2 linked regions of the Homo sapiens genome follow. Each later gene encodes a partner of the first gene's protein in a complex. Each region holds a gene or a part of one and is shown on either strand. Other genes may lie near its edges.

Region 1 (3,749 bases):
CCCCTCCTGGAGTTTCCAGGAGGCCTGACATCTCTGGTTTCCGTTTTTGGTTGGTGATCACTGATTCCACATTTGATAAGAATTTGTACATTAACTGTAGTGAGATAATCTGCAGGCAGGAAGCTTCTGTGGAGAAATCTGAGGCTATCTAGCTCATGGTGTCTCTTGAACTGTTCTTTCCAATAGGCAGTAGACTGCCCTTTTTTAATATGCTGGATGATTGCCTTATTATTGTTTATTAAGTACCACTGCTATACTAAGTCCAGGGTAGAAGCACACTCACCTACAATAGGTGACATGGACACCTTGAATGTTTGGAAGAGAGATGTGTATGTTCTGGGTCTAAACCAAGAGCACTGCTGAAATATAAGAGGGCACTGATGAACAGAAGGACTTGATCTACAAACCCTGTCTCAGAGACCTTTCACCAAAGGCCTTTCTCCAGACCCTTTTTTCCGTGTTCATTTGCTCCTACTTGTTCGCTTAATCCAGTCTGTATTTCCAAACCCTTCAGGCTCTTACCTCCTCACCTACTCTCTGGAATGTTTACCTGTGTGCAAATATGTAAACAAATAATTACGTGTATCTCTGCATATGAACAATTTGTGTTGTATACACATGAAAACATATCTTTGAGCACTTATATTCTGTGAATATATATATAAATGTTGGATTTTGAGGTATCCATGCACTTCTGCCTATAGGTAAAGAGTTGTGTGGGTAAGATCAGCTGAATCTTGTATGATTCTGTACAGTTAAAAGTATATTTCATATCCACACTCCTAACTGGAGTGTAGAGGTCACCTTGATTTTCCTTCTAGTGCCATTTTAAGTTTGGTTTTGTTGGTCAGGTTTTGTTTGTTGTGGGTGGATACTGATTTCATATAACGAAACCATGACGTCAGAAAACATTTAGATGTGGAACAATGGATTATTCCCAATTCCTTCCTTAACTCCTTTCCTGATTTTAGTACCAGAGAAGGTGTAGGTGTAGGTATTAAGGTGTAGGTATTAAGAACTGCCATTAAGTCAATAAAAGGTTGGTTTCAGTTACACTGTACTATATTCATTCCAGGACAATAAGCATTTTAAATATAACTGTATGCATCTTCTACCCTTGAGTAGTCAAGATGCATGGGGAATATGAAATTCCTTTTCTAAGTTTAGGAAGGCCTAAGCTCTGCTTATGTCTACAAAGATGGAGACTTTTCTGATACACAAAATAGGAAAGATGTCACCTATTTTATCTTGAATTGTCACTTTGATCATTTATTGTCAATTAACTTTTCCCATGTTTAAGACTCATCCCAGTATTAGATTTCATGCTCCCTGAAAGCAGGGACTGTGTCTTGAACTTCTTAGTATCCCCCATAGCATTTGGTGCAATGGCTTGACGATGCCAGATACAAGAAGTATCTTTTGGTTCAATTTGGTAAACTACATGCATTAAAACATCCACTGTATGCTTTTTTTTTTTGAGACAGAGTCTCACTCTTATCACCCAGGCTGGAGTGCAGTGCAGTGGCACAATCTCGGCTCACTGCAAGCTCCGCCTCCCAGGTTCAGGCCATTCTCCTGCCTCAGCCTCCCAAGTAGCTTGGACTACAGGCACCCGCCAGCATGCCCGGCTAATTTTTTGTATTTTTAGTAAAGACGGGGTTTCACTGGGTTAGCCAGGATGGTCTCAATCTCCTGACCTTGTGATCCGCCTGCCTCGGCCTCCCAAAGTGCTGGGATTACAGGCATGAGCCACCACGCCCGGCCACTGTATGCTTTTTCTAATGGAGTTTATAGCAGGTGCTTAAGATCCAGATAGAAAACAGACTAACATTTATTACAATTTTACAAATATCAAGCAATTAAAAACATTCAATGGTCTTATCACTTTGAAATAAATATGAATCACTCTGAAAGTCGATGAGGCTCTGATTATGATACTGTCATCATGTACTCTAGAAGTTTTAATTGTTGCTTTTTTTCTGTTCTTTCTTTGTTATTCAACTAGCTCAAGAGTGTTATTTTTAAAAAACCTGCTCTGTACACAGGGTCTGAATTTAGATTTTCCCAGAGACGATTACATGAAGGAAACCCAAAGATATCTGTATAGCTCCTCTTTTAGTTTGCATCTTCTTCCCCCTAGTAATTCATCAATCTACCAGCTTTCTCGTAGAAAAGGCTAGTATAGTATGATATGCCTAATGCCCCACAATGCCAGAATTAGGTTAAATGCCAAGAATGCAACTCATGCCATCAAGACTACCTTCCTATCAATTAAATTCACCACCTCCTTTCCTTTGCAGTCACTGTAGAATCATTAAACCATTACTCAGTTTCTGAAACAACATACCAGAGGCGCTGTGCTTCTCTCTGTCTTGTTGTTAGAAATGTTCTGGATGTGGAAAGAGACGATAGTTTCAACCTGGCCCTTCAAAACAGCTTCTGCAGCTCTGCAAAGATGGAAGAGACAGCACACACTAGAACTTGTTTCTATTTCACTAACTGTAATTCCAAAGCACTTTAACCACACAATAAACTTGTAAGGGAGAGGAAGGAATAGAAAGAACCACCAGAAATGTTGAAGAAGAAATCAAGACAAACATGTTTCATTATTTATATTTACCACTTATCATCAAACTTCTAAAATTAAAAGACAGCCATTAGCAAATCCCAAAAGAGGCATTAAAAGACAAAAACCAAGATTTTCTCCTGAAACTAATCCGCTGTGGTAGGTGTTTTATAGAGAATCCGAGTTCAAAATCCCAACCCAAGAAGGGGGAAGATGAGATCGTACAATACCTAGTGATAGTTTAAGGCTGTTAAGATTCACTTTTTATCTTAAGTGGAAAAAAAGTCAGAAAACCATATATGTAGGGTATAATCACAATTCTGATAAATAAAAATTGATGCATCCATCCACTAAAAATTTATATATAAAAATGTTTACAGTAGTTATCTCTGTGAATTCCAGAGATATTAATTTTTAGTTATACTTTCTAATTATTCTAGAATGGACATTTGTTACTTGTGTTGTTTAGAAAATAATAATAGGTAGGTTGCAGAAAAGTGTGTATTGTGCAATCAACTTCTTCTGTTTAAAAGAGGTATATATGGCCAGGCGCGGTGGCTCATGCCTGTAATCCCATCATTTTGGGAGGCTGAGGCAGGCAGATCACCTGAGGCCAGGAGTTCAAGACCAGCCTCGCCAACATGGTGAAACCCCATCTCTACTAAAAAATACAAAAAATTAGCTGGGTGTAGTGACGGGTTCCTGTAATCCCAGCTAATCAAGAGGCTGAGGCAGATGAATTGCTTGATCCCAGGAGGTGGAGGTTGCAGTGGGCCGAGATCTGCCACTGCACTCCAGCCTAGGCGACAGAGACAGACACCATCTCAAAAAAAAAAAAAGAAAAAGAGATATATATGTATATTTGTACAAGCACGAAAAATTTCTGAAAGGGAAGCAAAGGATGTATTATCAGTGGTTGCCTCTGGGGGAGTTTGGGTTGGGGAGGTTTTATGTTTTATCTGTACTGTTAACTTTAGGTGATAATAAAAGATCAATCTGCAATGGGAATAAGAATTTAGGTCCCCAGACAAGCCCTGCCCAACAGCAAGACACAGCCATCAACTTACTTATTGGCCATCTCAGTAGAAAACACGTACACCACTTTGGCTGGAGTCTTCTGAGCAGGTGTGGGCTCTGTGGCAGTAGTTTGGCCATGGGAGGGGGTAGAAGACCTGGGGGCTGT
Region 2 (3,749 bases), on another chromosome or scaffold:
GCTTGCCATTGGACCTAAATGTATTCCTGGACCCCATCACTCAGACCCCCATACTGGGGCCCTATCCAACTTGTCCTTTTAAAGCATTCCACTCAAATTCAGACATCCCAGTCCTCCAAACAATGTATCAGTTTGGGCCCAATTTCCTTCTTCCCACAGTGATCACACCAAAAGAAAAAAATTTAGAAACTATGTTGGTAGGCAAGAGTAATGCCCTAAGATGAAAGTTATATCAAAACTGATTCACTGAAAATTTGAACCAGAACTGGCACTTAACTCCTCATCATTTGGCCCTTTAATTTTCCTAATTATATCCACCTTAAAAACAGATACCATAAAATGATCATTCATGCTTGTCCTTTCATTCCCTGTATATCTTCCCTTTCAACACTGCCCCAATTTTCTAAAAACAAATTTCATCATTTCAGGCTTCTGCTGAAATTTCCCATTGTGCTTTTAAACATGCTCTACAAAGCCCTATGAGATCTGCTAAGTCTATCTCAATAGCCTCACCTCAAACCTTTCTTCCTCCTTACTATTAGTATTTCTTAAATTCCCAAAACTTTCCATCTCCTTCCTTCGTTTCAAAGATGTTGTTTTCTCACCTAACCTTCACCTAGTGAATCCCTTCTCATCCTTGAACACTGAACTCAACTATCACTTCCTCCAAGAGGTCTCCTTGAACCCTCAAAAAGAGTCAGTTTCAACTTGTGTTATGTGCCCTCATAGCCCCACTTCTTCCCACTACACAAATTAAATATTAGGTTATTATTCCCAACATCTACATCCCACCTAAGAACAAAAGTGTGAAGAGAAGCTTGCCTACCATATCCCTACTACTTCGCATAGTGCTTTACATATGGAAACTCAAAAATTTAAAAGAACAGAAATGAACTGGGCTGCACAGCAGGAGGTAAGTGGCAGGTGAGCGAGCATTACCTGGCTTGAGCTCTACCTCCTGTCAGATCAACTGCACCATGAGAGTCTCATAGGAGTAGAAACCCTAGTGTGGACTGCACATGCGAGGGATCTAGGCTGCACGCTCCCTATGAGAATCTAATGCCTGATTATCTGAGGTGGAATGGTGTCATCCAGAAACCATTCCCACAACCCATTCATGGAAAAACTGTTTTCCACGAAACTGGTCCCTGGTGCCAAAAAGGTTAGGAACACTGCATGGAATGACATGACACTGGAGGTGTCCAATGCTCCATGAAAACCACATAAAGAATAATTCTCTTACCTTGCTTTCTTGGTTGCCATAAGCTAAAATTTGAAGGCAGTCTGTCGTAATAGCCAAGAATTTAACATTTGTTTTGTTGAGCAAGGCAACCATTTTCTGCAGCCCACCAGCTAAACGCACTGCCATTTTAGCTCCTTCTTGATGTAATAAAAGGTTGTGGAGAGTTGTAATGGCATAAAACAACACAGAATCCACTGGTGAACTGGGAAGAAGAAAAAAGCCTCATCAGAAATATTGTGAGTATACTCTTCTACTTTTTAGCTTCAAGCATTCTGACATGTTTTCTTACCCAAGCATTTTCACCAGGGCAGGAATGCCTCCAGACTTAAAGATGGCCAGTAAGCCCTCACGATGATGGGAAAGGTTATGCAAGGTCCCAGCGGTACAACGAGCTGTTTCTACATCATTTGTATTCTGCATGGTACGTACAATAGCAGACACCATCTGAGGAGAACGCATGATAGCGTGTCTGGAAGCTTCCTTTTTAGAAAGCTGATGGACCATAACTGCAGCCTTATTAACCACCACCTGTAATACAGGAATTCAGAAACATCGTTAGTTTTCAAGTACTGGTATTGGGTAGACATTCTGAAACTACTCCCCTTGAGCATTTACTTCAAAGCAGACTAAAAAGCTAGCTATGTCATTGCTTACCTGGTCCTCGTCATTTAGCAGTTTTGTCAGTTCAGGGATTGCACGTGTGGCAAGTTCTGCATCATCTTGATAGTTAATCAAGTTTACAACTGCATGTTTCAGCATCTGTGATGGTTCAGCCAAACGCTGGACATTAGTGGGATGAGCAGCATCAAACTGTGTAGATGGGATCTGCATGCCCTCATCTAATGTCTCAGGGAACATAGCAGCTCGTACCCTCTGAGCTCGAGTCATTGCATACTGTCCATCAATATCTGGAAAAGGTTAATTCAACACTCACTATCCACAGTTCAGCATTTACCTAAGTATTTGCTATCCTAAATGGTAAAAGTGACATTGCTATTACTCTCTTTTCTTCACCACAACATTTTATTTAAACTATTATACACTAACTTTTTAGTTCTCAAAACTGCATTCTGACTTTCAGTAAGGCAATGAAAAATAATACTCTTACCAGCTACTTGTTCTTGAGTGAAGGACTGAGAAAATCCCTGTTCCCACTCATACAGGACTTGGGAGGTATCCACATCCTCTTCCTCAGGATTGCCTTTACCACTCAGAGAAGGAGCTGTGGTAGTGGCACCAGAATGGATTCCAGAGTCCAGGTAAGACTGTTGCTGCCAGTGACTAACAGCCGCTTTTCTGTCTGGTTCCATGGCCATGTCCAACTCCATCAAATCAGCTATAAATACGAAACAGTATTAGCATTAGTAGATTGGAAATGTTACTTTAATTTAAAAAAAAAGAATCTGTGATATGACCCATTGAAATATTTTTAGAAATAAAGTCAAATCTGAAAGACAGCCAAGAAAAGCAGAATGATAGCCAGGGTTAGCTCAGTGATGAAATACCTAATCCCTTAGGGAACCACCTAACAGTTACTCACTGAATCAGTGGAAGAATGGTACTGCATCCAGGCTCCAGAAGCAGTCATCCAGACTAGATTCCTGCTGGTGGCTTGTTTGCTATTTCACCAAGCCATTAGGAGGAGTGAGCAGAAAATGGAGCAAAAGGTAGCCTGACAAGTAAGCAGGGAGAGAGGAAAGCAGGGGGATCTCAGCCAGACTGGCTTAATGGCAACGAAGCAGAGCCCCAATTCAGTAACTAAAGATTTAATGACACAAACCTTGAGTAGCCATTGTCCACGCTGGATTTTCAAAACAGTTGTATGGTATACTTCAAATACCCTAAAAAAAGTTAATCAAAAGTCATTAGGATTTAAATTTAGCTTGATTAATACTCCTAAGTCACTGGGATACCTGTTAAATGTCACTATTACACCCACAAAAAAAACCCATATCCTCTTTTACCAGGTTAGTGAAACGCAGACCTCATGGTCTCCTCCAGACACCTCAACCACAGCTCCATCACTGCTGAACTTCAGTGAAAACTCCTCCTTACCAAAAATGTCTTTTTATTAATAGTATAAATATTAATTATAGATATTCAGGATGGTGATGAAAAAGCACAGAGTTGTAATAATAAAAGCCAGGGAGGGGAAAACACTATTCAAAAATCAGCTGCTCTCTGAATTCCTAAAGGTCTCTCCTTTTTTAACCTTTCACAGAAAAATTCACAGATCCCCTTTGGATAACAGAGGTACAGTGGGATTTTAAAAACTCCACATTTTCTTTAACAAGTTGTTTTCTGATATAGTGCCATCAAAAATTATTTTTCATAAAGCAAATTTTGGTGACTAGAATAGCGAATTTTAGATTTTTTGGTACAAAGAAAAATTACTTTTCAAATGAAAGTTTGCAACACAAAAGCACCTTTATTAGTAAAATTTTTCTAAGTTCAAATTTACAGCAATGATTTATTATAAATACAAATATTACCAATATGGATACAT

Evidence for each region. Proteins that work in one complex are often made in the same cells at the same time.
Region 2: the proteins of BCL9 (region 1) and CTNNB1 are in contact, whole or in part, in a crystal structure (PDB 3SL9), measured with the Homo sapiens proteins. Residues at the interface, in NP_004317.2 of Homo sapiens: Asp349, Leu351, His358, Arg359, Ser362, Leu363, Thr365, Leu366, Ile369, Gln370, Met372, Leu373; in NP_001091679.1 of Homo sapiens: Leu148, Arg151, Ala152, Glu155, Leu156, Leu159, Asp162, Asp164, Val166, Val167, Lys170, Ala171, Met174, Leu178.

What each region holds. Positions count from the first base shown.
Region 1 is NC_000001.11:147,614,501-147,618,249, reverse strand, and holds part of BCL9 (B-cell CLL/lymphoma 9 protein), read right to left. Parts: coding exon 3,634-3,749; intron 2,448-3,633; coding exon 2,348-2,447; intron 1-2,347. UniProt on the Homo sapiens protein: Involved in signal transduction through the Wnt pathway. Promotes beta-catenin's transcriptional activity.
Region 2 is NC_000003.12:41,223,356-41,227,104, reverse strand, and holds part of CTNNB1 (catenin beta-1), read right to left. Parts: intron 3,085-3,749; 5' UTR 3,037-3,084; coding exon 3,024-3,036; intron 2,916-3,023; exon of another isoform or gene 2,784-2,915; intron 2,580-2,783; coding exon 2,352-2,579; intron 2,152-2,351; coding exon 1,898-2,151; intron 1,772-1,897; coding exon 1,533-1,771; intron 1,446-1,532; coding exon 1,244-1,445; intron 1-1,243. UniProt on the Homo sapiens protein: Key downstream component of the canonical Wnt signaling pathway.